Homo sapiens: one gene and its partners. The protein of the gene in region 4 purifies or fractionates together with the protein of the main gene of each other region. This does not show direct contact. Each region holds a gene or a part of one and is shown on either strand. Other genes may lie near its edges.

Evidence for each region.
Region 1: the proteins of WHR1 (region 4) and ASB3 purify together in Homo sapiens (affinity purification with mass spectrometry, with the first as the bait; one large-scale study listed by BioGRID). This does not show direct contact.
Region 2: the proteins of WHR1 (region 4) and PCCB purify together in Homo sapiens (affinity purification with mass spectrometry; one large-scale study listed by BioGRID and IntAct). This does not show direct contact.
Region 3: the proteins of WHR1 (region 4) and ACACB purify together in Homo sapiens (affinity purification with mass spectrometry; one large-scale study listed by BioGRID and IntAct). This does not show direct contact.

What each region holds. Positions count from the first base shown.
Region 1 is NC_000002.12:53,697,221-53,705,064, reverse strand, and holds part of ASB3 (ankyrin repeat and SOCS box protein 3), read left to right. Parts: intron 1-4,536; coding exon 4,537-4,794; intron 4,795-7,844. Other genes in the region: GPR75-ASB3 protein, read left to right, coding at 4,537-4,794. UniProt on the Homo sapiens protein: Probable substrate-recognition component of a SCF-like ECS (Elongin-Cullin-SOCS-box protein) E3 ubiquitin-protein ligase complex which mediates the ubiquitination and subsequent proteasomal degradation of target proteins. Recognizes TNFRSF1B.
Region 2 is NC_000003.12:136,262,298-136,270,141, forward strand, and holds part of PCCB (propionyl-CoA carboxylase beta chain, mitochondrial isoform 1 precursor), read left to right. Parts: intron 1-7,844. UniProt on the Homo sapiens protein: This is one of the 2 subunits of the biotin-dependent propionyl-CoA carboxylase (PCC), a mitochondrial enzyme involved in the catabolism of odd chain fatty acids, branched-chain amino acids isoleucine, threonine, methionine, and valine and other metabolites.
Region 3 is NC_000012.12:109,243,974-109,251,817, forward strand, and holds part of ACACB (acetyl-CoA carboxylase 2), read left to right. Parts: intron 1-1,652; coding exon 1,653-1,775; intron 1,776-2,205; coding exon 2,206-2,475; intron 2,476-3,632; coding exon 3,633-3,730; intron 3,731-6,010; coding exon 6,011-6,131; intron 6,132-7,844. UniProt on the Homo sapiens protein: Mitochondrial enzyme that catalyzes the carboxylation of acetyl-CoA to malonyl-CoA and plays a central role in fatty acid metabolism.
Region 4 is NC_000006.12:31,974,359-31,981,994, forward strand, and holds the end of WHR1 (winged helix repair factor 1), read left to right. Parts: intron 1-4,544; coding exon 4,545-4,640; coding exon of another isoform or gene 4,641-4,652; intron 4,653-5,055; coding exon 5,056-5,195; intron 5,196-6,092; coding exon 6,093-6,190; intron 6,191-6,295; coding exon 6,296-6,443; intron 6,444-6,645; coding exon 6,646-6,691; 3' UTR 6,692-7,088; downstream 7,089-7,636. UniProt on the Homo sapiens protein: DNA-binding protein which is required for efficient transcription-coupled nucleotide excision repair (TC-NER). Acts as part of a TC-NER complex which assembles and interacts with RNA polymerase II (RNAPII) when it stalls at DNA lesions.

The DNA of each region.
Region 1 (7,844 bases), on a different chromosome or scaffold from region 4:
TAGAATTTGATTGTGGGAATTTTGTCAAAAATATCAAGGTTCAAAAAACTTTACCAAAGTAGGATCACAGGTCAATGTGAAATAATAGTCACTTATCTCATCTAGAGTGATAATTAAATGGCTTCAAAAGGCAAATGCAGAAAGTTATATAGTTGTAGAAAAACCTGAGTTCTTTATTAGAGAGTTTTCATAAGTGATCAGATAGAATAAAGACAACATGAAGCACAGGGAATCATCTTGATAAAATGCAGAATCTTTGTTTTTTTAGACCAGTTACCTAATAGGTAAAGGAAAACCTTTCATTATTTCCAAGAAAACTAAATACCACATTTTTATTATCTAATGTCTGGCTGGTTGCTTATACATTTACTGTATATGTAATATGAGACTTATTCATTTTGAGTTTCTGTATGAAGCTTTTCCAATTAAGCAAGAAAATGATCATTTTCCCAGTAGGTTTTGCTTTGGTATGTCAAGAGGGTCATATAACCAGTGTCTGAGGGAAAAAAATTGAAGCTGAAAAATATGTTTTTGGTTATTTCTTTTGATAAGTAAGCATCTTAAAATTTGGATTGCCTACAATCACATGACTAAAATTAATTAAATTAATTACAGTCACCAATTATAAAGCAAGGACAATTGAATATAATCTTAATTTTAAAATAGCTATCATATGTTATTTTTTCCCTTTTTTTTTTTTTTTTTGAGACAGTCTCTCGCTCTGTGGCCCAGGCTGGAGTGCAGTGGCGTGATCTTGACTCACTGCAACCTCTGCCTTCTGGGTTGTGGCGTTTCTCATGCCTCAGCCTCCTGAGTAGCTGGGATTACAGGCATATGCCACCACGCCTGGCTAATTTTTGTATTTTTAGTAGAGATGGGTTTTCCCATGTTGGTCAGGCTGGTCTCAAACTCCTGGCCTCAAGTGATCTGTCCGCCTTGGCTTTTTGGTGTGGGATTACAGGTGTGAGCCACCACGCCTAGCCCTTCTTACTTTTCTTAATGAGTGATACACGAATTTCCTATATCACTTTTACCAGTTATAAGAATTCAAATTTGGTCACAATACTGGTACCAGGTAACTTAGAAGATTCAATTTTCCAAAATTAATTATTTGATATTCTAATTTTTAGGGATTTGGTAATAGATAGTAAGTTTAATGGTATAAGTTTAAAAATTTTATTTTTATAGCAACAATGTGTTATGATAGTGTTAATTTGGTATGATTGTTGTAATTAACACCTATCCGACTTCAGGTGTTAATGGCTAAAAGACTTCCCTTTTCTCATTTGTATATTTTCTAGTATTTCTCTGAAATCTATTAATTTACTATTTGTGGACTTTCTTGCACTATTGACCTGTTGTATTCTAATAAACTTTTATCTACTTTTATAAATAGTACAATTAACACCAAAAGGTGATGAAAATGATAAATAACAGCTTTGGATTTTCTTTATTCTTGTTGTTTTGAGATAGAATTTCACTCTGTTGCCCAGGCTGGAGTGCAGTAGTGCAATCATTGCTCACCGCAGCCTCAAACTTATGAGGTCAAGTGATCCTCCTGCCTTGGCCTCCTAAGGTGCCCCAGGTTTTAAGTTTTCTCTTCCTTATTATTTTTTCAGCTAATTCAACTTTTAAGCTCAGTATCAGTGTTCTGAAACATTTTTGGTAGGTATTCTTTGTGAGAATGACACTTAGCTCCTTTCACCACTCCCAGGGATGATGGAAAGGTGTCTCCTCCACTACTGTATAGATCCTGCAACAAAAGCAGTTTTTGTCCTTTGGAGCTAAAAAGTTAGCAGCTATATTGATATGAAGCCAGTCTTTCAAGAGTAATTGAGTAATCCATCTCGAATGAGGAAATATAAGAAAAAGATTCCTCCAAATGGAATGGGAAAGGAAGAGGGAAGTTGAGAAGTTTTAGGACTGTTTGAGCAAATATGAATGCCTTTTATATATGGCCACAGAAGTAGATTGTGGCTTAGCTCACCTGGTTTTGTCTGTTTTTCTAGTTGATACTAATCATTGTTATTACATTAGTTTCATAGAATTAATTGTGTCCATTCTAGCCACCATATCGTGTGGGCACATCTGACAAAACTGAATGTCTTCATCTTGTTTTCAGCTAATGGTCGAAAGCCATTCAGTAAAACTCACTATTTGGCCTGTTATAATTCACCTAATAAGTTGGTTGGATATTTTGTTTGCTAATTGAACATAAAATGCTGAAGATATTTGCCCATTTCTATTTGTTTAAAGTAAATTTTGTTTTCATGTTGAATTTTCTCTTACTGTGCTTCTTTTATGTGTGAGCACTGTTTTTCTGCATAGTTTTGAACTTCAAGGAGCGGAGTGGTAGAAAATGTGCAAACCCCCAAAATAAGGTCTAGACATTGGATTTTAATTTTTAAATCTCTCCTCTCAGTATCTGATGTTGTTCACTTCTTATATAATGTACAGTCCCTCTATGTCACAATTAATTCTTGATATTTATGTTAAACAAGATAGACTTTTGTTTAAATCTCGGGTACTTGAAGAGTTTTCTCAATTTGATATTAGGGCTACAGAGAGAATTTGTTGAAGTGTTAAGAGAAATACATACTAATTTATATTTTAACCAGAGGTTATCCATGCTCAAGGATTTATTGTGTGCTTAGTGACATGTAATAATCAAGGTCATATAGAGCCCTGAAGTTGAAGTTGCTTGTGTTTCTGTAGTGTGCACATGTATTTGAGACCTTCTTTAATAACCTTCCCAGAAGCTCAGGGCATGCTGACAAAACTCTATGCTTCTCCAGTTTATTTTGTGTTTATTTTATTCTTCAAACAAATGGTAGTTTTTTTGGGAAATGGTCTATATTGTAGCACTGTGCAGTTTTATAAGCCTTTTGGGATTTACTCTTGCCCCTTCTAATACAAGGCAATGTGAATAATTGGAAGAGGTTTAGAGCTGATTTTCTAAAGTGTGTTTTGGTAGAATACTAATTCTGTAGATTGTTAATAGATATTATATGGGATTAAAGGGGTTGTATTGTTAAATAAGTTTGGGAAGTACAGGATTAAATAATATTGAATATGTTTCTTTTGTAGAGGGCTTTTGAGAATTTTTCTTATTGTAGTGTGCTTTGTGAATTCCTAAAAGAGGAATGGATCTACAAAGATTTGAAAAGTCCAGAAACATAGGATAGAACTTATATTTAAGTATATATACCATTGTTCTTGTGTTTACAGAATTTTGGGCATTTTATACTTTTGTTTGCTTTTTTCAGATTAATGATTGGACCCATTGTTAATTTTAAAGGTACCTCTTCTGAAAAGTATCTGAAAGTTGAATAAAAACATTGAGCATATATTTGGAAATGTAACTAACACATTGTTTAAAAATACATTCATCCTATCTTTCTCAGGCTCACTGTATACTGTATAAGGAGGTTTCTCAGTTTTTTTCACTGGAGAGTATTTTTCATATGGATCATTTTCAGGAACTAAAGTTCTGTGTAACCTACTTTGGAAAACATAGATCTGGCTCTAAAATATTCTTCAATTTGGCTATATCATGAAGTGTTCAGTTTTCATAATAGAGAAGAGATATTGCAGAAATTTGCTATGTCATATTCACTGTTAGATTTTGGTTTGATATCATTATCCCAGTTCTGCCAATTACTAGCTCTGTGACTCAGCTTCAGTTTTTGCATCTACAATGGAGATAATAATAGAAGTTAATTAATTTTAAGATGTAGTATTGTAAATTAAATTTGTGTTAATTAAAAAAGTTTTTAAATTTTTTTTAATACCATTATAAATGTAAGGCCAGTCACGGTGGCATACCTTTTGGGAGACCAAAGCGGGAGGATTCATTGAGGCCAGGAGTTTGAGACCAGCCTGGGCAACATAGTGAGACTCTGTCTCTACAAAAAAATTTAAAAATTAGCCAGGCATGGTGGCATGTAGCTGTAGTCCCACCTACTCAGGAGGCTGAAGTGGGCGGATCACTGGAGCCCAGGAGTTCAGTTACAGTGAGCCTTGATTGTGCCACTGCACGTCAGCCTGGGCCACAGAGCAAGACCCTGTATCTAGAAAAATAAATAAGTTTAAAGTGGGAGGGAAATTGGCTAAGGTTATTGCTAAGGAAAATGATATCTTAGAGATTCCTAGAATCATTTAGTTTTAAGGATTGATCACGTTGTTTATTGATTTTGTTAAGCAAAGTATTTTGTAGTAAAGATACTCATTTGTACAAAATATCACAATTTGAGTTTTCTGTCAATGATAATTTTTTTTAAAATGACATTTAAGATGAATGTTTTAAATTATAATAATACCTGTTCACAGTTGAAAATTAAAAACCATGCAGGAGGGTGTAAAAAGCAAAAGCCCCACCACATTCTCTAATCTCAATCCACTAGATGTGTAGAAACCATCCACTATTTAATCTGCCATACTTATTCCCCAGCTGTAACTACTATTAACTGTTTGTAAGAAGTATCTTATGTCAAAGTCTAACTTCTTCTTTTTTTGTTTTTATTTTTTATGGTGGAGCTGTGAGTTCTTTGGAATTGTGAACATTCTTTTGAAATATGGAGCCCAGATAAATGAACTTCATTTGGCATACTGCCTGAAGTACGAGAAGTTTTCGATATTTCGCTACTTTTTGAGGAAAGGTTGCTCATTGGGACCATGGAACCATATATATGAATTTGTAAATCATGCAATTAAAGCACAAGCAAAATATAAGGAGTGGTTGCCACATCTTCTGGTTGCTGGATTTGACCCACTGATTCTACTGTGCAATTCTTGGTAAGAAATTCTACCATAGTCGGGCTTACCCTTTTTGAGTGAATATACTACCTTTAATTTCCTTCAGTTGAGATCCCAGTGTTTGGAGAAGGGTATCTGTGTTTTGACTGTGATGGCTGAATTGGGGTGAAGGAGTTGGTGGCTGCTAATAATGAGATTGAATTTAAGCACAGAGTCCTGGGAAAAGATAAGAGGTGACTGGAAGGAGGTATGAGGGGATAGATGCCAGTGAGCTCTTCTAAGAGGGATATTTCTTCGACTTCTGGGCATTCCTCATGCTTCTCTTAAAATGCCTGTAACAGAAGAAAGAATGCTTGGAGCTGCTTTGGAGATTTCTGTTGTCTATCCCTCAGCCAACCAGACTGAATAGTCCTGCCGTACAGCATCCTGTGTATTTGAAACTTGTCACCCTTAATAAATACTGATTTCTGAAGTATCTGAGACTATAGTTTGTTTACTTCAGGTAGTTCCTCAGAAGGGCAACCCTCAGTGAGAGATTATACAAACGCCGAGTCAGAATTTTTTGGGGGGCAAGAAGAAGACTCTTTCTATTAACCTCCAGCCTTTGCAAAAATTGTTAGTGTCCTAACACAAGTAATTGTAGTAGCGAGAGGACTCTTGGCCTAATAATTCAAGTCAAATGAGAAAATAAAATGGAAGTCTTCAGGAAAATAGAGGACTTGTTATTTTATAGAATTTCAATAAAATATCTAGAAGTCTTCACTTTCGTGTTTCAATTCTTACCCCGTGTGATGTCTGTCCCTAAGGCACTAATTGTCTTCTTAGAAACACTCCTTGTGTTTTTCTACCAAAGCTATTAACTCTGATTCGATATGACTTGCCCAGTACTTTCAGCCTTCATGCTCCTTTCTGGTTTCTAATTTATTTATTTCTGTAACCAAAACATAGAAACTGTCTGATACCTACTGCTGTGGTTTGAATGTGTCTCAAATTTCAGGTGTTGGAAACAGTCCTCAAATTCATTTGTTGATGATATTTGGAGGTGAGATATTTGGGAGGTAATTAGGATTAGATAAGATCATCAAGATGGTGCCCCAGTGATGGGACTGGTGGGTGGCTTTATAAGAAGAGAGACTGGAGCTGATATGCTTTTGTTCTCTCACCGAGTGATGACCTCTGCCATGTTATGACACAGCAAGAAGGCCCTCATCAGATGGGCCCCTTGACTTTGGACTTCCCAGTCTCCAGAACTGTAAGAAATAAATGTACTTTCTTTATAAATTACCCAGTCTCAGGTATTGAGTTATAGCAACAGAGAATGGACTAAGACAGAAATTTGGTACTGAGAAGTGGGGCTGTTGCTCATAACGATTACCTAAGAATATAGAAGTAGCTTTCGAACTAGGTAATGGGTAGAGGCTGGTAAAGTTTGGAAGAACAGTCTAGAAAAAGCCTATATTTCCGTAAATGGAGTGTTAAGGGTGATTCTGGTGAGTGCTCATAAGATGAGAAGACTAGGAAAGTCTCAACCTTCTTAGAGATTATTTAAGTGGTTGTGACCAAAATGTTGATAGAAGTATGGATAGCAAAGGCCATTATGACAAGGTCTCAGATGACAATTAGCAATACCCTGTTGGAAAGTGGAGTAAAGGCCATCCTTGTTATTAATTAGTGAAGAACTGGGATGAACTGTGTCTATGCCTAAGGACTTTATGGAAGGCTGAATTTAAGAGTGATGAACTAGGCTATCTGGTGGGAGAAATAACTAAGTAGCAAAGCATTCAGGCTGCTGCATGGCTACTTGTGGCCACTTATAGAGAGATGTGAGGGCAAAGGAATGACTTAGGACATAATATAATTAGAAGGGAAGAAGAGTAGAAAATTTTGGAAAATTCTCAGCCTGGCTGTGTGGAAAAGAATGAAAGAGAATTTTCAGGAGAGGAACCCAACGTTGTGACTAGCAACCCTTTGCTGAGCAGATTTGTACAAATAGAAGATATCATCAAGACAATTAGAAAAAAACCTTGAAGGCATTCCAGAGATCTTTGAGGCTGTCCCTCCCATCACAGGCCCAGGGCTCTAGGAGGTCAGATTGGTTTTCAGGAGGGTTTGTGGGGTGGTACTAATTCTGTAGGCATGTAGAATGCAAGAGCTGTGGGGGCATGGATTCCTCCACCTAGATTCCAGAGGTTGTTGAAAACAGTCTGGGGGCTCAGGCAAGAGACCTGTCCCAGGAGAAGAGCCACTGCAGAGAGCCTTTCTAGAGCAATGCCCAGTAGAAATATAGGGTTAGAGCTGCCACAAAGTTTCTACCAGGGCAATGCCTAGAGGACCCATGGGAGCAGGGCTGCCATTGAGACCTCAGGACTGTAGAGCTACCAGCATGAAGTGCCATCTTGGGAGAGCTGAAGTCTGAGCAAAGCCATAGGGGCGCCATAGGGGTGGGACTGAGCCTAGCAAAGTCATAGGGGTGGAGCTTCCTGAGGTAGTGGAGGCTCAGCCTCCATCCCAGTTTATCCAGGAAGCCCTGAAGTGGAGTCAGGGAAGATTATCTTGGAGTCTCAAGGTAATCCTCTTGAATTTTGGACTTACTTGGGTCCTATTACTCTTTGCTTCTTGGATATGTCTCCCTTTTGGAATGGGAATGTTTGTCTTATGCCTGTCCCACCATTGAATTTTGGAAGTAGATAACTTGTTTGATTTCACAGGCTCACAGCTGGCAGGAATTTAAGGTAAATTATGCCTTGAGTCTCATCCCCCTCAGATACCAAAATCTATGTGTTACTGGAAAGGGGTCCCAATCTAGACCCAAGAGAGGGTTCTTGGATCTCGTGCAAGAAAGAATTCGGGGCAAGTCCATAGAGTAAAGTGAAATCATGTTTATTAACAAAGTAAGGGAACAAAAGAATGGCTATTTCATAGGCAGAGCAGCAGCACAGGCTGCTGAGCTGCTTATACTTATTGTTACTTCTTGATTACATGCTAAACAAGGGGTGAATTATTCATGAATGAATTTTCCAGGAAAGGGGTGGGCAAGTCCCAGGACTGAGGGTTTCCCCCTTTTTATACTATAGGGTAACTTCCTGAAG
Region 2 (7,844 bases), on a different chromosome or scaffold from region 4:
GTTAAAGATCGTTCATAAGGGAAAAGCACTTGAAAATGTTTTTCTTTTTTTGAAAGCAAGGGAGAGGAAATATGAAAAGTTAAAATGAACTGATGTGCTTGAATTAGAAGTTTTAAAAAATGTAGCACCTTTTTTATTTTTTAGTTAAAACACTACAGGATTATTAAATAAAGTCCAAGCCACAGTGCAAAGAAGAATGAAATCACCCCAGATCCTACCATTCAGAAACATTTGGCGAACCTCATTACTGATATCTCTTTGCTTATTTACAGACTGAAATTATGAGAGAAAGAAATGAAAAGAAACATAAAATAATGTGTTATGTGAAGTATAAAGTATATTTGTGAGAGATACAGTAAGAGGCTGGGATGAGGGAGAGAGATACTGCAGACAGAAACTGGCAACATTTCCAGGGAGAAGAAAGGAAGGAGACAGGCAGACATTGTTTTTAATCAGGCCAGCCACTCTTATCATCCCTGCTCTGCAGGCTTACTTCTGTGGATGGCTTGGCCTAAGCAGTTTAGGCCTGGAAGTCATTCCTGTTTAGAAACAAAAGAGCGGCCCTCAGAGACGTGGTGATAAACCACCACATTTTAGAGCTTGACTGGATTTTAGAATATCATCTAGTTGAATACATCTTTATGGGTCTGGAGGAGGTTTTTTTTTTTTTTTTTTGAGACAGAGTCTGGCTCTGTCTCCCAGGTTGGAGTGCAGTGGCCCGATCTCGGCTCACTTCAACCTCTGCCTCCTGGGCTCAAGTGATTCTCCTGCCTCAGCCTCCCGAGTGGCTGGGACTATAGGCGTCTGCCACCACGCCCAGCTAATTTTTGTATTTTTAGTAGAGACGGGGTTTCACCATATTAGCCAGGTTGGTCTCGAACTCCTGACCTTGTGATCCGCCCACCTCGGCCTCCTAAAGTGCTGGGATTACAGGTGTGAGCCACCGCGCCCAGCTGGTTTTTTTTTTTTTTTTTAATATTTATTTATTTAGAGACAGTGTCTTGGTTGGCCAGGCTGGAATGCAGTGGCATGATCTCTGCTCACTGCAACCTCAGCCTCCTGGGCTCAAGCGATCATCCCACCTCAGTCTCCTGAATAGCTGGCACCACAGGCATGCACCACCACATCCGGTGAATTTTTTTTTGTATTTTTTTTATAGAGGCGGGGTTTTGCCATGCTGCGCAGGCTTATCTTGAACTTCTGGACTCAAGCGATTGGCCTGCGTTTGCCTCCCAAAGTGCTGGGATTACAGGAGTGAGTCACCACGCCTGGCTTTTAATTTTTGTTTTCAAGGGCTAGTCTTTACTTTCAGATCTTCATTGCTTAATTAATTGCTTACTAATGCTGCTTGTCATATTGATACCTCCACTCACTTATTCCTGCCTGTGTTATTTTTTGGTAACTTTTTATTTTGATAAAATTTCAAACTTCAGCCTGGGCACGGTGGCTCACACCTGCAGTCTCAGCACTTTGGGAGGCCAAGGCAGGTAGATCTCTTGACGTCAGGAGTTCAAGACCAGCCTGGCCAACATGGTGAAATCCTGTCTCTATTAAAAATACAAAAATTAGCTGGGCATGGTGGCACATGCCTGTAATCCCAACTACTCAGGAGGCTGAGGTGGGACAACTGCTTGAACCTGGGAGACAGAGGTTACAGTGAGCCAAGATTGTGCCATTGCACTCCAACCTGGGTGACAGAGCAAGACTCTGTCTCAAAAAAAAAAAAAAAATTCAAACTTCACAGAAAAATGACAAGAATAGTATGGGAACTCCTATATGTCCTTTTCCCAGATTCACCAGTTGTTTACATTTTCTCCATTTGTTCTGTTATTCTCTCTCCATATATACATATTTGCATGTTACATTTTTCTGAAATATTTGAGAATAAATTGGAGATACTATGTCTTCTTTACCTCCTAAGTTCTTCATTGGGTATTTCTAAAGAATAAAGATATTCTCTTAAATAACCAGAATACAGTAATAAAAATCAGGAAATTTAACATCGATTCATCGATGTTATTCTAATTCATTATCCTTATTCAGGACTTAAGTCCTTTATAGTGTGTGCTCTGGGCATGTGTGCACTTTCTATGTGCGCGCTCTCGCTCTTTCTGTCTCTGTCTCTCATATATATGTGTGTGTGTATATATGTATATATATATATGTTCCTCCTGGCCAGGATCCAATCCAGAATAAAGCATTGACTTTAGATGTTATCTCTTTTTAATCTTTTTTGATCTGGAGCAGTTCCTGTCTTTGTTCTCCATGATCTTGATATTTTAAAAAATAGCTTTGGCCAGGTGTGGTGGCTCACACCTATGATCCCAGCACTTTGGGAGGCCGAGGCAGGTGGATCACGAGGTCAGGAGATCAAGACCGTCCTGGCTAACACGGTGAAACCCCATCTCTACTAAAAAAAAACAAAAAATTAGCCAGGTGTGGTGGCGGGCGCCTGTAGTCCCAGCTACTTGGGAGGCTGAGGCAGGAGAACGGCATGAACCCGGGAGGCAGAGCTTGCAGTCAGCCAAGATTGCGCCACCGCGCTCTAGCCTGGGCGACAGAGCAAGACTCCGTCTCAAAAAAAAAAAAAAAAAAAAAGAGCTTAATGCTTAATAGGGCCGGGCACGGTGGCTCATGCCTGTGATCCCAGCACTTTGGGAGGCCGAGGTGGGTGGATCACTAGGTCAGGAGTTCAAGACCAGCCTGGCCAAGATGGTGAAACCCTGTCTCTACTAAAAATACAAAAATTAGGCGGGCGTGATGGCGAGCGCCTGTAATCCCAGCTACTCGGGAGGCTGAGGCAGGGAATTGCTCGAACCTGAGAGGTGGAGGTTGCAGTGAACTGAGATCATGCCACTGCACTCCAGCCTGGGTGACAGAGCGAGACTCCATCTCAAAAAAGAAAAGTAGCTTTATTGAGATATAATTTACAAACCATAAAATCCACCCATTGTGAAAATATAATTCAGTAATTTTAAATTAATTTTTAGAGTTGTACAGCCATAATCTAGTTTTCAAACCTGCCACTCACTCCAAAAATACCTTCTTGCCTGTTTGCAGTCAGTTCCCACCTAACCACAGTCAATTCCTCACCCAACTTTCTTATTTTACAAATTTTTCCATCTGACTCCTTTCACTAAGCACCATGTTTTTTGAGGTTCATTTATATTGTAATATGTATCAGTTTGTTCCTTTTTATTGGTGAATAATATCTATTGAATATTTTATGTATTTTCATCATTTACCAGTTGAAGGATATTTGGATTGTTTCTGGTTCCTGGCTATCATGAGTAAATGCTACTGTGAACATTTGTGTATTACTTTGTGTGGATATATGTTTTCATAACCCTTGGATAGATAGGTACCTAAGAGTGGGATTGTAGGTTTTATGATAAGCTTGTTTATAACTTTTTAAGAAATTGCCAGATGGTTTTCCAAAACAACTAAACCATTTACATTACCATGAGCAATGTGTTCAGGGTTGCAGGTTCTCCATATCTTTGTTGATACTTGGTATTGTCAGTCTTTTTTTGTTTTTTTTTTTTTGAGACAGAGTCTTGCCCTGTCGCCCAGGCTGGAGTGCAGTGGTGCGATCTCGGCTCACTGCAAGCTCCACCTCCTGGGTTCACGCCATTCTCCTGCCTGAGCCTCCCGAGTAGCTGGGACTACAGGCACCTGCCATCACGCCCGGCTAATTTTTTGTATTTTTAGTAGAGACTGGGTTTCACCATGTTAGCTAGGATGGTCTCGATCTCCTGACCTCGTGATCTGCCCACCTCAGCCTCCCAAAGTGCTGGGATTACAGGTGTGAGCCACCACCATGCCCAGCCTTGGTTTTTTTTTTTTTTTGAGATGGAGTCTCACTCTGTGGCCCAGGCTGGAGTGCTATGGTGCAGTCTGGGCTCACTGTAACCTCTGCCTCCCAGGTTCAAGTGATTGCCCTGCCTCTGCCTCCCGAGCAGCTGGGATTACAGGCATGTGCCACCATGGCTGGCTAATTTTGGTATTTTTAGTGGAGACAGGGTTTCACCATGTTGGCCAGGCTGGTCTTGAACTCCTGACTTCAAACGATCCATCTGCCTTGGCCTCCCAAAGTGCTGGGATTACAGGCGTGAGCCACCGCACCCAGCCAGTCTTTTTTTGAGACAGGGTCTCACTCTGTTGTTCAGGCTGGAGTACAGTGGCATGATCACAGCTCACTGCAGCCTCGACCTCCTGGGGTCAAGCGATCCTCCTGCCTCAACCTCCCAAAGTGTTGGAATTACAGGCGTGAGCCACTGTGCCTGGTCCAGTCTTTTTGACTATAGCCATTTTAGTGGTGTGTAATGGTATCTCACTGTAGTTCTAGTTTGCATTTCTCAGATGACTAATCATGTTGAGCATCTTTATGTACATATTAGTCATTTGTAAACCTTCTTTGCTGAAATGTCTATTCAGATCTTTTGTCCATCTCGTAATTGGGTTTTTGAGTTGTAAGAGTTCTTCATATATTCTGGATACAAGTCCTTTATCATATATATGATTTGTAAGTATTTTCTCCCAGTCTGTGGCTTGTCTTTTCTTTCTTAGTGGTAGCTTTATTTTTATTTTTATTTTTTATTTTTTGAGACAGCCTCACCCTGTCCTCCAGGCTGGAGTTCAGTGGTGTGATCTTAGCTCACTGCAACCTCCACTTCCTGGGTTCAAGTGATTCTCGTGCCTCAGTCACCCAAGTAGCTGGGATTACAGGTGCATGCCACCACGTCCAGCTAATTTCTTTGTATTTTTAGTAGAGATAGGGTTTCACCATGTTGCCCAGGCTGGTCTTGAACTCCTGAGCTCAGGTGATCTGCCTCCCTTGGCCTCTAAAAGTGCTGGGGTTACAGGCGTGAGCCAGCACACTCAGCCTATTTTTATTTTATTTTTTAGAGACAGGGTCTTGCTCTGTTGCCTGGGCTAGAGTGCGTTAGTGCAATCACAGCTCACTGCAGCCTTGAACTCTGGGCTCAAGCAATCCTCCTGCCTTAGCCTACGGAGTAGCTAGGACTATAGGCACACACTAGTACACCCAGCTAATTTTTGAAAAATTTCTTTTGTGTGTAGAGATGGGGTCTTACTACATTGCCCAGCCTGGTCTTGAACTCCTGGTCTCAAGCGATCTGCCTCGGCATCCCGAAGTGCAGGGATTACAAGCCACTGCCCCAAGCCTGTGGTGGCTTTTTTTTTGAGCTAGGGTCTCACTCTGTCACCCAGGCTGAAGTGTAGTGGTGTAATCATGGCTCACTGCAGCCTGGACTTCCCGGGGTCAGGCAGTCCTCCTGCCTCATCCTCCTGAGTAGCTGAGACCACAGGCACATGCTACCACATCTGGCAATTTTTTTTCATTATTTGTAGAGGTGAGGGTCCCACTATGTTGCCCAGGCTGTTCTCAAACTTCTGGACTTAAACTGTCCTCCTACCTCGGCTTCCTAGAGTGCTGGTGTTACTGGCATGAGCCGATGTGCCCAGCCTCTGGTGGCTTTTGAGGTGGAGAAGTTTTTAATTTTGAAGTCCAGTTTATCAAGTTTTCTTTTGTGGGTCATGCTTCTATTGTCATATGTAAAAACTTGTAATACAAAGTCATGAAGATTTTGTTTTCTTCATGGAGTTTTTTTTGTAGGTTTGGCTCTTTTTTTTTTTTTTTTTTTGAGATGGAGTTTCACTCTTGTCGCCCAGGATGGAGTGCAATGGCGCTATCTCAGGGATTATGGGTGCCTGCCACCAAACCTGGCTAGTGTGTGTGTGTGTGCGTGTGTGTGTGTGTGTGTGTAGATATATATATATATATATATATATATATATATATGTATATATATATATATATATCTACATACACAAGTACATATAAGAGAGCCCAGCCAGCTTTCTTATAGTAGGTCTGTGATCCATTTTGAGTTAATTTTTGTATATGGTGTGACAGAAGAGTCTAACATCACTCTTGTCTCCCACCATTAATTGACATAACTATTCTTTCCCCATTGAATTGTCTTGACACATTGATAAAAATATCAGTTGATCATAAATGTAAGGGTTTGTTTCTGAACTCTCAGTTCTTCCATTGTTCTATGTCTGTCCTTAAAATAGAACCACACTGTCTTGATTACTGTAGTTTATAGGAGTTTTGAAGTTGTGTAAAATCCTCCAACTTGGTTTTTTTTTTTTTTTTTAGATGTAGTCTCGCTTTGTAGCCCAGGCTGGAGCACAGTGGCATGATCTCAGCTCACTGCAACCTCCACCTCCTGGGTTCAAGCGATTCTCCTGCCTCAGCCTCCCGAGTAGCTGGGATTACAGTCACGTGCCAGCACACCTAGCTAATTTTTGTATTTTTAGTGGAGATAGGGTTTCACCATGTTAGTCAGGCTGGTCTTGAACACCTGATCTCAGGTGATCCACCCGCCTCGGCCTCTGAAAATGCTGGGATTACAAGCGTGAGCCACCGCACCCAGCCCGATCAGCTCTTAACTCTACAAAAATGCCTGCTGAGATTTGATAGGAACTGCATTGAGTCTGTAGATGAATTTGGTGAGAATTTACATCCTAACATATTGAGTCTTCCACTCCACGTAGATGGAATGTTTCTCTGTTTATGTAGCTCTATACTTTGTCTCAGCAATATTTTGTAATTTGCAGCATACCTGTCTTGCACTTCTTTTGTTAAACTTATACCTAAAATATTTCACTCTGGCCAGGTGCAGTGGCTCACGCCTGTAATCCTAGCACTTGGGGAGGCCAAGGCAGGGGGATCACCTGAGGTCACAAGTTCGAGACTAGCCTGGCTAACATAGTGAAACCCTGTCTCTACTAAAAATACAAAAATTAGCCAGGTGTTGTGGTGCATGCCTGTAATCCCAGCTACTCAGAAGGCTGAGGCAGGAGAATCGCTTGAATCCAGGAGGCGGAGGTTGCAGACTCCAGCCTGGGTGACAGAGCAAGACTCCGTCTCAAAACAAAACAAAATATTTTACTCTTTGTGATGCTATTTAGAATGGAATTATCTTGTTAATTTCCTATTTGGATTCTTTGCAAATGTATAGAGATACAATTGATTTTCATATGTTGATCTTGTATACTGCTTTGCTGAGGTTGTGTATTAGCTTGAATAGGGGGTGTGTGTGTATGTGTGTATTTCTTTGGATTTTCTATATACACAATCATGTCTTCTGCAAATAGAGGCAGTTTTACTTATTCCTTTCTAATCTGGATGCCTTTTATTTCTTTTTCTTGCTAATTGCTCTGCTTAGAACCTGTAGTACAGTGTTAAGTAGAAGTGGTAAGAGTGGACATCCTTGGCCGGGTGCGGTGGCTCACGCCTGTGATCCCAGCACTTTGGGAGGCCGAGGTGGGCATATCACGAGGTCAGGAGATAGAGACCATCCTGGCTAACACGGTGAAACCCTGTCTTTACTAAAAATACAAAAAAATTAGCCGGGTGTGGTGGCGGGTGCCTGTAGTCCCAGCTACTCGGGAGGCTGAGGCAGGAGAATGCCGTGAACCCGGGAGGCGGAGCCTGTAGTGAGCCGAGATCGTGCTACTGCACTCCAGCCTGGGTGACAGAGTGAGACTCTGTCTCAAAAAAAAAAAAAAAAAAAAAATAAGAGTGGACATCCTTGTCTTGTTCCTAATCTTAAGGAGAAAGCATTCATTCTTCACCATTAAGCATGATGTTAACTGGTGTGTGTTTTTTTTTTTTTTTTGGACATTCTCTTGAAGGTTGAGGAAGTTCCTTTCTACTTCTAATTTTTTGAGTGTTTTTATCATGAAGGGTATTTAATATTGTCAAATGCTTTTTTCTGCATCTGTGAGATAATCATGTGTTTTTTGTTCTT
Region 3 (7,844 bases), on a different chromosome or scaffold from region 4:
TGCCATGTTGGTATGGGATCTAATTAAACTAAAGAGCTTCTGCACAGCAAAAGAAACTACCATTAGAGTGAACAGGCAGCCTACAGAATGGGAGAAAATTTTTGCAATCTACTCATCTGACAAAGGGCTAATATCCAGAATCTACAAAGAACGCAAACAAATTTACAAGAAAAACAACAACCCCATCAACAAGTGAATGACGTTCATGAAACCAAGGTCAAGGACCTTCCAGTGTAGGCAGGAAGCATCTGTTCCTACCTCTGCCTATGCCTCATGCATAGAGGATATGAAAGAGTAGGAAAAGCTGCTCTTTAGAGTAACTCGGGCCTCAGCTCGAATGCTGGATCTGTCCCCTTGCTTCCTGCTGTCCCTAGCCAAGTTCCTTCACCTCTCTGGGCCTCAGTTTCCTCTTCTGTAAAATAAGAATAATAACAGTACCTACCAAAAGTTGTTGGAAAAGTGTATGTATTCAGTGGGCGCTTAATAAGTGGAAACTTATGATTAAGAATGTCATTGTCTGTATCCTTTTGCCTTTGACCTCAAGAGCTATAAGGGAAGAAACATGACTGAACCAGAAGCAAATCCATCGTCTCTTTTTTAGATAAATCCATTGTCTCTTTTTTACAGGCATGAGCCACCATGCCTGGCTAATTTTTTTATTTATAGTGGAGACAGGGTTTCACTATGTTGGCCAGGCTGGTCTCAAACTCCCGGCCTCAGGTGATCTGCCTGCCTCAGCCTCCCGAAGTGTTTGGATTACAGGCATGAGCCACCACACCCAGCTGTCTGTCTGTCTGTCTGCCTCTATATCTATATCTATGTCTATATCTATCTATTTATCTATCTATCTATCGAGAGAATGGAAAACTGAACAGCAGACCAGAGCTAAATTTATCAATATGGATAAATCTCTCAAACAAAGAGGAGTAGAAAAAGTAATTTGCTGCCGGGCGTGGTGGCTCACGCCTGTAATCCCAGCACTTTGGGAGGCTATGGTGGGTGGATCACCTGAGGTCAGGAATTTGAGACTAGCCTGACCAACATGGAGAAACCCTGTCTCTACTAAAAATACAAAATTAGCCAGGTGTGGTGGTGCCTCAACCCGGGAGGTTGAGGCAGGAGAATCACTGAATCCGGGAGGCAGAGGTTGCGGTGAGCTGAGATTGCGCCATTGCACTCCAGCCTGGGCAACAAGAGAAAAAAAAAATAGAAAAAGTAATTTGCGGAAGGATGTGTACAGTGTGGTACTCTTTATTTAAAGTTTGCAGTGCAAAACGATATTGTATGTTTCCAATGTATGCATACAGGATAAAGGAAAATGAAAAAAAAAGCATGCATAGGACTGGGTAGGCACTGAATTCAAGGGAATGGTCACCTGTGGGTTGGAGTTGGGAGGAAGAATGAGCTGGGGCTTCAATCGCATCTTTCTTCTTTCTTTCAAAAACTTTAAACAACTATGGAAAAATCAAGATTTGACAGAGCCACTGGATGGGTGCTCATATTTAAATATGCTTTAAATATTTCATGATTCAAAAAGAGAGAGTGAACTACAGAATTCACCCTGGAATCATGACAGATCATCTCTGTCTGGGAAAGATAGTTCTTCCCTACTGATGACTTCAAGTTTTTTCTCTTTCCTCTTCTCTCCCCAGGCTCTCTTTAAACTGTGGGGCTCCCCAGACAAGTATCCCAAAGACATCCTGACATACACTGAATTAGTGTTGGACTCTCAGGGCCAGCTGGTGGAGATGAACCGACTTCCTGGTGGAAATGAGGTAATAGCTCAGCGGAGCCTAACCCCTGGCTGGAGTCACCCCCTTAAAAATATTTTTGGGCCAGGTGCAGTAGCTCACACCTGTAATCCCAGTGCTTTGGGAGGCCAAGGTGGGTGGATCACTTGAGGTCAGAAGTTCAAGACCAGCCTGGGCTACATGGTGAGAACCTGTCTCTACATAAAATTTTAAAATTAGCTGTGTGTGGTGGTGTGCTCCTATAGTCCCAGCTACTCGAGAGACTGAGGCAGGAGTGATTGCTTAAGCCCAGAAAGTTGAGGCTGCAATGAGCTGTGATTGCACCACTGCACTCTGGCCTGCGCAACAGAGCAAGACCCTGTATCTAAAAAAAATAATAATAACTAAAATAAAATAAAAAGTTTTCCCCCAAAGAAACAAACTCATTTTCCTTGTGCATTCATCCCCTTGCCAGGTGGGCATGGTGGCCTTCAAAATGAGGTTTAAGACCCAGGAGTACCCGGAAGGACGGGATGTGATCGTCATCGGCAATGACATCACCTTTCGCATTGGATCCTTTGGCCCTGGAGAGGACCTTCTGTACCTGCGGGCATCCGAGATGGCCCGGGCAGAGGGCATTCCCAAAATTTACGTGGCAGCCAACAGTGGCGCCCGTATTGGCATGGCAGAGGAGATCAAACACATGTTCCACGTGGCTTGGGTGGACCCAGAAGACCCCCACAAAGTACGTCGTGAAACTGGCGGGGCAGGGTGATTCTGCTCAGCTACTACTGTATTTTCAGTGGGAGTGCTAGCACCTGCAAGAGGTGAAAAAAATCTCACTTATGTATAAAGCACAGATGTACATGTAGTGTATAAACAGGCATACAGTGTATCAGTGATACTAACATTTCACTGTGGCGGGGGGGATGGTGATGAGAAAAAAAAGATCTAAAAAGGCTCCTTAACGGGGATAATGAAAAAAGTCTATAAACCCTGAGCTGATATACACTGAGCGCTCCTGAATGCAGTGTGCACTGAGAATGCAGAGGTGATTGTGTCAACTCCCTGGCCTCATAGCGTTCTTAGAATTATGGCTCACACCTGTCATCCCAGCAACTCAGGAGGCTTGGGTGGGAGGATAGCTTGAAGCCAGGAATTCATGACCAAGCTAGGTAACCTAGGCAGCATAGCCAGACTTCGTCTCTACTAATGAAAAAACTAGGTGAGCATGATGGTGCCTGCCTGTAGTCAGCCTCAGCTACTTGGGAAGTTGAAGTGGGAGGATCACTTGGAGCCCAGGAGTTCAAGGCTGCAGTGAGCCATGATCATCATACCACTGCACTCCAGACTGGGCAACTGAGTGAGACCCCCCATCTCAAAAAAAAAGAAAAATCTTTGGGGAGTTGTATAGATACCAGCTTGCCATAAAAGGCAAGATGAATGAGGGAAGCGCACGCATTCTGTGATGTGAAATGACAGGGGACAGTCATCCTTTCCATTCAGAGCATGCATTCTCGGGGGCGATATTGCCCACTACCCCCAAGAAGACAGAAAAATAATTTTTGGGGTGGCAATAAAATAGTTTTTAACATATATACATATACAGAGTATGTAAATAGTGGTTAAACAGTGTATCTTGAAAATTAAAATTTCATGTTGGGGTGCTGGCAATAAGAAATAAAAATGAGATAGTCCTTAGAGGAGAGCTTAGCTCAAAGCAGAACTTCAGTTTATGGCTGTTATTAATACGGTATTTACATGAGATGTGTTAATGTGTCATTGACATGTTACTAACATGTTATTAACATCCATCCCTACGATGTTCACATTAAGAAAAAAAAAACAGTGGCTTTCAGTGCAGGGAACTGGATTCGTAGCCTCACTAAAGTATTTTTTAAGGGATTTAAATACCTGTACCTGACTCCCCAAGACTACACCAGAATCAGCTCCCTGAACTCCGTCCACTGTAAACACATCGAGGAAGGAGGAGAGTCCAGGTAAATAACTTATCAGGTAGCTCCTTAATTTTGCTCATGGTTAATTTCAGCTGTCTTCTTTCCTCGGGGCTTGTGGCGATATTTTCCAGTGGGGTGGTGGTGTTTGTATGATGGGAACCAATGCCTGTTGGGGGCACTGATGCCTTAAACATTTGTTAAACTCTCCAAGGTGAGTCCATCCTTGTCATTCTAAAATGAGTGACTCCTTTCACAAAAAATAGCACGTCATGTAGGGAGAATGAGATTGGATTCTCGTGAATCTCCTAGGAGCCGCAGGCTCACATTTTGTGACCAAACTGATGCAGCGGTGACTTGGCAAACTGGGAAGGTATGGGTGGGGCAGAGAGAGGTCTGTTCTTCGAGAGCATTCAAAGGCTACTATCTTTTCCAGGACAAGTTATGTTTTTCTCAGTGGGATTAACTGACTCAGGATTTCCTAGACTGGGTTTTTTGCAATGTTAGTGACAAGCTGGGGGGAAATTCCATAGTCAGATGAGTTTGGGAAACACTGGGTTAAATGAGATCTCATAAACATCTTTATTGCAGACCTTCTTAGTACCTGTAGCATGCTGTATTAGTCAGCGTTCTCCAGAGGGACAGGACTAGTAGGATATATGTATATATGAAAGGGACTTTATTAAGGAGAATTGACTCACATGATCATAAGGTGAAGTCCCATGATAGGCTGTCTGCAAGCTGAGGAGCAAGGAAGCCAGTAGTGGCTCGGTCTGAGTCTAAAAGCCTCAAAAGTAGGGAAGCCAATAGTGCAGCCTTCAGTGGCCAAAGGCCTGAGGGCCCCTGGCAAACCACTGGCGTGAGTCCAAGAGTCCAAAGGCCGAAGAACCTGGAGTCTGATGTTTGAGGGCAGGAAGCTTCCAGCATGTGAGAAAGATGAAAGCCAGAAGACTCAGCAAGGCAGCTTACTCCACCTTCTTTCACCTGCTTTTTCTAGCCGCGCTGGCAGCTGGATGACTGGATGGTGCGCACCCACATTGAGGATGGGTCTTCCTCTCCCAGTCCACTGACTCAAATGTTAATCTCCTCTAGCAACACCCTCAAAGACACACCCAGAAACAGTACTTTGCATCCTAAAGTTGACACTTAATATTAACCATCACACATGCTAAAGTGCATTGTGAATCTCTAACAGAGGCTGGCGGGACAGTGTTTCTCATTATGTGGCCCTGGAATTTTTGATTGATTGATTGTGAATGGGTTTCCTCTGTGTACCCCCATCTCTCTGTAGACCGTTGGAGGAATATGGGCCGAGGGTGATATTTCACTGAGACAGCCCCTGAACAGGCAGATATCTTTGGTTGTATAAACCAAAAAGTATCTGAGACAGGTCTCAATCAATTGAGAAGTTTATTTTGCCAAGGTTAGGGACACATCCAGAAGCAAAGAACACGGAATCATAGAAACCGTCTGTGGCGTGTACCTTTCTTCAAAGATGATTTGGAGGGCTTCAGTATTTAAAGGAGAAAAGCAGGCTGGAGGGGAAAGAGGGAAGTTCTGGTAATCACATGTTGCAGGAGAAAAGGCGCAGGCAGGGGAAGTCAGTTATGTATTCTTCCTGCGCTCAGTAAGTCAGCACTTTCTATAAGATAAGGTGGACATAGAGGAACTACCTGTGGAGATATTTCAGCTTTTATCTGTATCTATCTGCTTACTAAAGAAACAAAAGGAAAGGCAGCTTGCACAACTCAGCTTCAGCTTAAATTGTTCCTTTTGGCATTGTGAATCGTGGTCCTAGTTTTTATTTTCCTTTCACAGATGGGAGCAGTGTGATGATTTATTTATTTATTTGAGACAGAATCCCGCTCTGTCACCCAGGCTGGAGTGCAGTGGTGTAATCTTGGCTCACTGCAACCTCCACTTCCCAGGTTCAAGCGATTCTTCTGCCTCAGCTTCCCAAGTAGCTGGGATTACAGGCGTGCACCACCACGCCCAGCTAACTTTTGTATTTTTAGTAGAGATGGGGTTTCGCCATATTGGCCAGGCTGGTCTCAAACTCCTGACCTCAAGTAATCTGCCCGCCTCGTCCTCCCAAACTGCTGGGATTACAGAGCAGGGTGATGATTGTTGATGCTGCACTTGCCCTTTTAGAAATCTTAGCACTCATTTTGAGGGTTCTAGATGCCAATTTCATTTTGCCTCTGGATGCTTTGTCTGCTTCCAATCTCTCACCTTGCTGCCCAGTCAGTCCCTTCTTGGGAAATGCATCCACCTTGGATTTTTTGGGGCTAGAGCCCAGCCTTTAACCTGTGCTTGCTTTTGAAGATACATGATCACGGATATCATCGGGAAGGATGATGGCTTGGGCGTGGAGAATCTGAGGGGCTCAGGCATGATTGCTGGGGAGTCCTCTCTGGCTTACGAAGAGATCGTCACCATTAGCTTGGTGAGTCTTCTTCTATTTTCTCTTACTTTTCAACTTTCCATTATAGAAACTTTAAAATTGTCACAAAATTAGAGAGAATCAATAATAAGCCCCATGTGCCCGTCACATACCTCCTACAGTTACCACATGCCAGCCCACTGATATTTCCTCAATCTCACCCCCATCCCCTGCACCTGTTTTAGAGTATTTTAAAGCCAGCCCCCATCATGTCTTTTCATCCATAAATACGTAAGGGTAGATCTTTAACAGATAATGACTCTCACCCTCTTCCCCCGGTTTTTAAAAACATAACTGAAATACTAATATTACACCCAACAGAATCAGCAATATCATTGAAACCCAGTGTGGTTTAACAGTTATCTCAAAATACCCTTTTCTAGTGGTTTGTTTGAATCAGGGTCCAATCTCATCTTATTTTCAAGGTACTGAATGTTTAGAAGAACTTTTCTCTGACTTTAACTGGCATATAAGGAGTAGTCCCCATCCCATCCCCATGGCCTTTCCAAAAATGTTTTCTGTTTCTAGTAGTAGTACTACTGTAGTAGTAGTAGTAGTACTAGTAGTAATTCTAGTACTAGCAGTGGTGGTAGTAGTGGTGGTGGTAGTAGTAGTAGTGGTAGTAGTGTTTGTGGTGGTGAATCTGTATGGGTCTAAGGCAGAGTGAGAGACCGAGGCAAGTCTCTCAGCAGGAGTGAAAGTTTATTAAAAAGTTTTAAAGCAAGAATGAAATGAAGTACACTTGGAAGAGGGCCAAACAAGGCAACCTGAGAGATCCAAGTGCCTCATCCAACCCTTTTGAGGTTTTATGCATTGGCATGATTCCAGGGTTTGTGTTTCTTCTCCCCTGATTCTTCCCTTGGGGTGGGCTGTCTGCATGCACGTGGTCTGCCAGCACTTAGGAGGGGCCGCATGAACAGTGTGTTTACTGAAGTTGTGTGCATGCTCACTTGAGGCTTTCCTCCTTTACCAGTCGAGTGTTCCTAGAAGAAGGGCACGGTACCAGATAAACTCTGCCATCTTACCTCTTAGCATGCATGCTTGAGCCCACCCACCCAGCTCCTGAGATCTTATGGGGAAGCTGCTTATCACTAGCTTCAGGTGTTTTCTATCTATCAGGAGATTGCCTTTCCCTGGAGCCAGCTGTGACCAATATTAATTTTAGAGAGACACTTTAGCAACTGCCTAACTATCACCTGATGGTTGCCTTCCTCTCCTGCCCTGCTCATGTCTGCTTAACTACCTACTCTAACAGCAGCAGCAGCAGGAATAATAGTACTCTTTAATGATAAACTGCCTTGGAAGGCCTTATTTGTACATGCAATGTTGAATCTTCAGTTTCCAAGTGGAAAATGTTGGTCATAAGCATCTTCCTTGGGCTTGTTTTCTAGATTATATGTATAGTCTTTTTATTTTGAAGTCATCTAGGACCCACCGTAAGTTATAAGATACTACAGAGAATTTCCAAGTACCCTTCACCCAGCTTCCCCTATGGTACTTACATAACCGTAGTACATTATCGAAACCAGGAAACTGACATTGGCACAATATTGTTAACTCAGTACAGACCTTATTTTGAATTTCACCAGTTTTTACATGCACTCCTAGGTGTCCTTTTGGTTGTTAAGAGGCTGCAATGGCCCATGAATGCCCAGGCTCAGAAGAGCTGCACACAAGCCTCTTAAAATCTGAAACATTCACTGTCTGCTGCTTGTC
Region 4 (7,636 bases):
GCAGTATTAGAACCTGTGATTCAAGACAGTGGTCTAAGAAGAGGGAAGAGGTAAAGTAAAATATAAACTGAAATCTAGGCTGAGTGTGGTGGCTCATGCCTGTACTCCCACCACTTTGGGAGACTGAGGCAGGAGTATAGCTTGAAACCAAAAGTTTGAGACCAGCCTGGGCAACAAAGTGAGACCCCATCTTTACTAAATAACTGAGATCCCATCTCTACTAAATAAATAAATTAAAACACAAAAATTCTTAGCTGGGCATGGTGGTGTGCACCTATTGTTCTAGCTGTTTGGGAAGTTGAGGCAGAAGGAGTGCTTGAGCCCAGGAATTTGAGGCTGCAGTGAGCTATGATTGCACGACTGCACTCCAGGCTGGGTAACAGAGGGAGACCCTGTCTCTAAAAAAATGAAAACAACAACAAAAAAACCCAGAACTGAAATCTGTCCATTGGATTTAGCAGGTAGAAGGTTAATAGTGATCTTTCAAGAAAAGAGGAAAGAAAAGGAAGGCAGTCTAGCACTCACTTGAGGTGAGCTAGTCTCCCTGACTAGGTCTCCCGTGAGGAAGCATGCCAGATGGAACCACTCCTTAAGGAGTATTTGTTGATTTTAATGTATTGGTGTTAGCTTTTGTTTTTAAAAACCTTTAAAAGTTGCAGAATGAAAATATAAACATATATAATTTAAATGATGTTTATAAAGCAGATACCTATCTAGCCACTCCCTAGGTCAAACTATAGAATATGACCAGTATCCCACATATATCCCTCTCTGATCAAAATGTCTCTGATCAGAATGTCCCTGGGAGGTGACTGCTGTGGTCATTGTTGCCTTAGTTTTCCCTTTTTTTTTTTTTTTTTTGAGGTGGAGTGTCGCTCTGTTGCCCAGGCTGGAGTGCAGTGGTGTGATCTCAACTCACTGCAACCTCTGCCTCCTGGGTTCAAGCAATTCTCCTGCCTCACTGTCCTGATTAGCTGAGACTACAGGCACGCGCCACCATGCCCAGCTAATTTTGGTATTTTTAGTAGAGATGGGGGTTTCATCATGTTGGCCATAATGGTCTTGATCTCCTGACCTCGTGATCTGCCCTCCTCGGCCTCCCAAAGTGCTGGGATTACAGGCATGATCCACCGCACCCGGCCTAATTTTGTATTTTTATAGGGATGGGGTTTCACCCTGTTGGCCAGGCTGGTCTCAAACTCCTGACTCAGATGATCTGCCTGCCTCGGCCTCCCAAAGTGCTGTTTTTTTTTTTTTTAATTGTCTTTTTGATAATTCCACTATTTTTTTTTTTTTTTGAAAAGTCTCCCATGTCTACCTCTTTCCACACAGACACGGCAACCATCCGATTTCTCAATCTTTTCCCCACCTTTTCCCGCTTTCTAGTCCACAAAACCACCATTGTCATCGTGGCCCGTTCTCAATGAGCTGTTGGGCACACCTCCCAGATGGGGTGGTGGCCGGGCAGAGGGGCTCCTCACTTCCCAGCAGGGGCGGCCGGGCAGAGGCGCCCCTCACCTCCCGGACAGGGCGGCTGGCCGGGCGGGGGGCTGACCCCCCCACCTCCCTCCCGGACGGGGCGGCTGGCCGGGCAGAGGGGCTCCTCACTTCCCAGTAGGGGCGGCCGGGCAGAGGCGCCCCTCACCTCCCGGACGAGGCGGCTGGCCGGGCGGGGGGGGCTGACCCCACCACCTCCCTCCCAGACGGGGCGGCTGGCCGGGTGGGGGGCTGACCCCCCACCTCCCTCCCGGACGGGGCGGCTGGCTGCGTGGGGGGCTGACCCCCCCACCTCCCTCCCGGACAGGGCGGCTGGCCGGGCAGAGGGGCTCCTCACTTCCCAGTAGGGGTGGCTGGGCAGGGGCGCCCCTCACCTCCCGGACGGGGTGGCTGGCCGGGCAGGGGGCTGACCCCCCCACCTCCCTCCTGGAGGGGGCGGCTGCCGGGCGGAGATGCTCCTCACTTCTCAGACGGGGCGGCTGCCGGGCGGAGGGTCTCCTCCCTTCTCAGACGGGGAGGCTGGGCAGAGACCCTCCTCACCTCCCAGACGGGGTCGCGGCCGGGCAGAGGCGCTCCTCACATCCCAGACGGGGCGGCGGGGCAAAGGCGCTCCCCACATCTCAGACGATGAGCGGCCGGGCAGAGACGCTCCTCACTTCCTAGATGGGATGGCGGCCGGGCAGAGACACTCCTCACTTTCCAGACTGGGCAGCCAGGCAGAGGGGCTCCTCACATCCCAGACGATGGGCGGCCAGGCAGAGACGCCCCTCACTTCCCAGACGGGGTGGCGGCCGGGCAGAGGCTGCACTCTGGGCACTTTGGGAGGCCAAGGCAGGCGGCTGGGAGGTGGAGGTTGTAGCAAGCCGAGATCCCGCCACTGCACTCCAGCCTGGGCACCATTGAGCACTGAGTGAACCAGACACCGTCTGCAATCGCGGCACCTCCGGAGGCCGAGGCTGGCGGATCACTCGCGGTTAGGAGCTGGAGACCAGCCCGGCCAACACAGCGAAACCCCGTCTCCACTAACAAAATACGAAAACCAGTCAGGCGTGGCGGCGCGCGCCTGCAATCGCAGGCACTCGGCAGGCTGAGGCAGGAGAGTCAGGCAGGGAGGTTGCAGTGAGCTGAGATGGCAGCAGTACAGTCCAGCTTCGGCTCGGCATCAGAGGGAGACCGTGGAAAGGATAATTCCACTATTACTTGTCTTTTGGGGTTTGTTTTTATTCTCTCTTTGAGTTTTGTTTCCTTATGCGCCCAGTTACTTTTGAAAATGTTCTGGGCAGATTTGCCTAGATTAATAAATGCCCTCCATGTTCCAATTACTTTTTTTTTTTTGAGACAGTGTCTTACCCTGTCACCAAGCTGGAGTGCAGTGGTATGATCTTGGCTCACTGCAACCTCTGCCTCCTGAGTTCAAGTGATTCTCCTGCCTCAGCCTCCCAAGTAGCTGGCATTACAGGCACCTGACACCACGCCCAGCTAATTTTTTTTTTTTTTTTTTTTTTGAGACGGAGTCTCGCTCTGTCACCCAGGCTGGAGTTCAGTGGCATGATCTTGGCTTACTGCAAGCTCTGCCTCCTGGGTTCACCCATTCTCCCGCCTCAGCCTCCCGAGTAGCTGGGACTACAGGTGCCCGCCACTATGCCTGGCTAATTGTTTTTTTTTTTGTATTTTTAGTAGAGATGGGGTTTCACCGTGTTAGCCAGGATGGTCTTGATCTCCGGACCTCGTGATCCACCCGTCTCAGCCTGCCAAAGTGCTGGGATTACAGGCATGAGCCACCGCATCTGGCCTATTTTTGTATTTTTAATGGAGACCGGGTTTCATCATGTTGGCCAGGCTGGTCTTGAACTTGAACTTCTGACCTCAAGTGATCCACCCTTAGCGTCCCAAAGTGCTGGGATTACAGGCATGAGCCACCGTGCCCGGCCCCAGTTATTTTTATTTTTATTTTTTGAGTTAGAGTCTCACTCTGTCACCCAGGCTGGAGCGCAGTGGCATGATCTCGGCTCACAGCAACTTTCTGGGTTCAAGCAGTTCTCCTGTGTCAGCCTCCTGAGTAGCTGGGACTACAGGCACACATCACCACGCCCGGCTAATTTTTGTAGTTTTAGTAGAGACGGGGTTTTACCATATTGGTCAGGCTGATATTGAACTCCTGACCTCAGGTGATCCACCCACGTCAGCCTCCCAAAGTGCCGGGATTACAGGCTTGAGCCATCTCGCCCGGCCTACTTAGATGTTATATTAGTGGTAATTCCTGTTATCCTGTGAGCTCTTTAGTGTCTAAACAATTTTTTTTAAGAGATGGGGTCTCACTGTGTTGCCCAGTTGCAATCATATCTTACTGCAGCCTCAAACTCCTGGGTCAAGTGATCCTCTTGCCTTAGTCTCCCAAGTAGCTAGGACCATAGGTGTCTGCCCCCACGCCTGGCTGTTTTTACATTTTTTGTAGAGATGTGGCGGGTGGGGGGGTCTCACTGTGTTGCCCAGACTGGTCTCGAACTCCTGTCCTCAATTGATCCTGCTACCTCAGCCTCCCAAAATGCTGAATTACAGGCATGAGCCACTGTACCTGGTCTTAAACAATTTTAAAATAACATTTTTATCCAGGATTTTAGTTAATTTTCAACAGGTGGATTAGTTCTTGCTGTATTCTCGTAAACAGAAGTCCTGGTTTATTTTTATTTGTTTTAAACATTGAATCCCATACTCCTCCCCACCTTACCCTACCCAGAATTTAGACTGTTAATGTTTTGAAGCCACAGCCTGCATCTTAATCACTATTTTATCTTAGTGCCTGGTCTTAGAAATTATATTGACTCTTTGATAGACCATATATAAGGCAGGTGGATGAGAATGTGGGTAGCTAGTTGGAAAAGGCTGCTTGGTCATTTGCTTGATTATTTTCTCACACAGTTTTTCCTTTACTAAGAGAAAATGCCCCCATATTGGCAAACAAAATCTCCCTGCCTGAGAGCGCCCAGAGTATAGCAGAGCATCTTACCCTGATACGCCTCTTTTCACTCTCTTCTCTGTGGAGACAGAAGGAGCTTCAAGAGCAGGGGGAGATCAGAATCGTCCAGCTGGGCTTCGACTTGGATGCCCATGGAATTATCTTCACTGAGGACTACAGGACCAGAGTATGTGACTGTGTGCGTCAGGGGTGCTGGGGGGAGGGCACAGGTTGGGGGAGACAGGGAACTTGGGAAACAGAAATAAAAACAAAAGAAAGAATTTCCCTGCCCCCACATCCCATGGAGAGGGCACAGGGCCCTGGTAAATAGTAATATGAGGGAGAGAGACAGGAGGGAAAGAGGGAGGAGTGAGAGGGTAAAGAGGGGGGGAGAGGAGGGGGAGGAGGAGGAAGGAAGGAGGGGGAGGAGGAGGGGGGGAGGAAGAGGGGGAGGAGGATGAAGAGGAGGAGGAAGAAGAAGGGTATGAGAGGTGGAAGGATCTGAGCAAGAGGTAAGACAGGAAGAGAAATGCTGTCCTGGGGGTGGAGGTTGGTAGAGAGTGAGGGTGGGGATGGACCATGTCTCTCATCTCTGCTTGTAGGTCCTCAAGGCCTGTGATGGCCGACCGTATGCTGGGGCAGTGCAGAAATTTCTAGCTTCAGTACTTCCAGCCTGTGGGGACCTTAGTTTCCAGCAGGACCAAATGACACAGACCTTTGGCTTCAGGGACTCAGAAATCACGTGAGACTTGTGGAACCAACCAAAGTCAGGCATCTGGTGCTTCCCTGCCTCCCTCCAGTTCCATCCAGCCTGTCCTCCTGTTTTTTTGGTGAACCTGCCAGAAAAGCTGCCAAAAAGCTGACTCTTCTTGTTAATAAAATGACCCAAGTTTGTATTCCTCCCCACAAGAGAGGAGGCCTATCTTACCTGGGCCTTAGAAAGAGCCCTGAAATAGAATTCAGTTCTTGGTGGCTTATCAAAAGCACACAGGGGCCTGGCAGGAAGTGTAAAAGCTTGATGTTAATCATACTGGGACTAAGAGGATAGAGAATGGTAGGAGCTGGGATACCCCTAAACATTCACATTAAAACAAAAAAAACCCAAAGCTAAAAAACAACTGGGCAGGAGCTAAATAAAAATCTAATTTTGAGAGGCTGTATCTGGCTCAGGCCTCCTACTTTGTAACCCATGGAATATGTGAAAGCATTTGAAAAACTATAGCACTGATCTCACATGGGCAGACACACTCTCAGAGAGATGTGGTGGGAGCCATGGCGCAGTCTGCCTAGGCAGTGGCAGGAGCGCAGAAGACTCTGATTCCTCTCCTCGGTCCTAAGACCGAATGTGTGTCAGGACATGTGGTCAGGGAAGAGAAGCTATTTAACTGAACCAGTAATAGTAGCAGGAAAAGAAAAAGTGGAGGGAGGGCAGTCCAGGTAGGGGGCCTGGAACAAGCAACTGCACCAACAGAGGCAGTTGGTGCGAGCACAGAACCACCCCAGGCTGGGATTTTGTTATCCAGTCTCTCTTGCATGGTTGCCCGTGTTTCTGGAGACTTGTGTAAACATTAATGGATGAGGAGGAGAGATGGTTCTCAGAGCCCAGCCCTCATCTCTGCTGGCTTCCCACTGCCCTCAGGCATCTGGTGAATGCTGGAGTCCTCACCGTCCGAGATGCTGGGAGCTGGTGGCTAGCTGTGCCTGGAGCTGGGAGATTCATCAAGTACTTTGTTAAAGGTATCCCATCTGCAGCTCAAGCCTGCAGCCCCTCACCTTTTGGTGGCTCCTCAGGCCTCTAGGCCTTATTCACCTTTCCCCTTTCCTGTGCCACTTCTCCTCTAGGGCGCCAGGCTGTCCTTAGCATGGTCCGGAAGGCAAAGTACCGGGAACTGCTCCTATCAGAGCTCCTGGGCCGGCGGGCGCCTGTCGTGGTGCGGCTTGGCCTCACCTACCATGTGCACGACCTCATTGGGGCCCAGCTAGTGGACTGGTGAGTCTTTCCCTGGCCTCTGGCAGATTATGGAGCAATGACCCAAAGTGGGATTTCCTCCCAGCTCATGCTTAGTTTCCTAGTGAAGGCCAGTGGCTCTCATTCTTCTCTGGAACCCGGGAGCACCCCTTCCCAAGTTCTAAGTTCTCCTCACAGCTTGAGCCTAGGCGTCTGGCTCCAGCCTTGTCTTTCTCCTGCACAGCATCTCTACCACTTCAGGAACCCTCCTCCGCCTGCCAGAGACATGAAGATTCTGCTCATCATTGCTCAGCTCCTCAGAGTGGGCCGGGAGGGGACTAGAAGAGCTGCATGATGGTGGCTGAGACAGGGTCACCTTGGGAAGGCTTGGGAGCCAGGATGAGTGTCGGGCTCTCGTGTGTGCAAAAGGTCAGATGTGACTGCTGCTGTTTGCCTGGTTTCTGACCCAGTGGTGGGGTTTGAGCAATGCTTCTCTGCCCTTCCATGGAAAGTGGAACCAGAAATGGTGCCAAGGCTGTGGCTGTTCCCTTTCGTGTAAAATGGTGCTGTTATTACTCTGTCTTGAAATAGGAAGGTGGGATTTCTGGGGAGGCTGGTGAAGGAGGGCAGGGTTCTTTTCTCTACGTGTCATGTTAAAATTGCCAAATAAAGTACCTCTGCCTGTGATATTTTCTGGATGTCCTTTATTTACTGTGACGTGTGTTTGGGTGCCTTGTTTAGGGGTAGAGGTGAAGTCTGAGCTTTGCCTCATTCAGAGAGGAAAGGGGTCAGGGGTTCACTCTGACGTTCAGGCCATTCTCCCTGTGGAGTGGTGAGGGTGTACCTAATCTCCTAAACCACGGAATTTCTGTTAGGGCCTAAAAAAGCAAAAGCCTAGTATAGTTCAATTTGTGTTGGAATGAAAGTAAGAGACAAGTGTCTTAGAAGCCTGTCATTGTTTTGTGAGGGCCTTTAAATATCCTGTACTCGTGGGCCATGTTGGGCCCTTGTACGCCCAGGTATACATGAGCTTGTGTGCACCTATACCCTGATACAGATATACCTGGTAGGGGGAGGTGCTCAGGCACTGGAATGAGAGGAGTTAACGGGGAAGGACAGGGTTATTTCTGGGCCAAGATTCAGAGTTTCCCATGGACACCCAGGTGTCCGGGGTGCCCCCACAACTCTGGGCCTGAGGCCAGTTGCACTTCTTGGCTGTCACGTGGTTTCCCAGC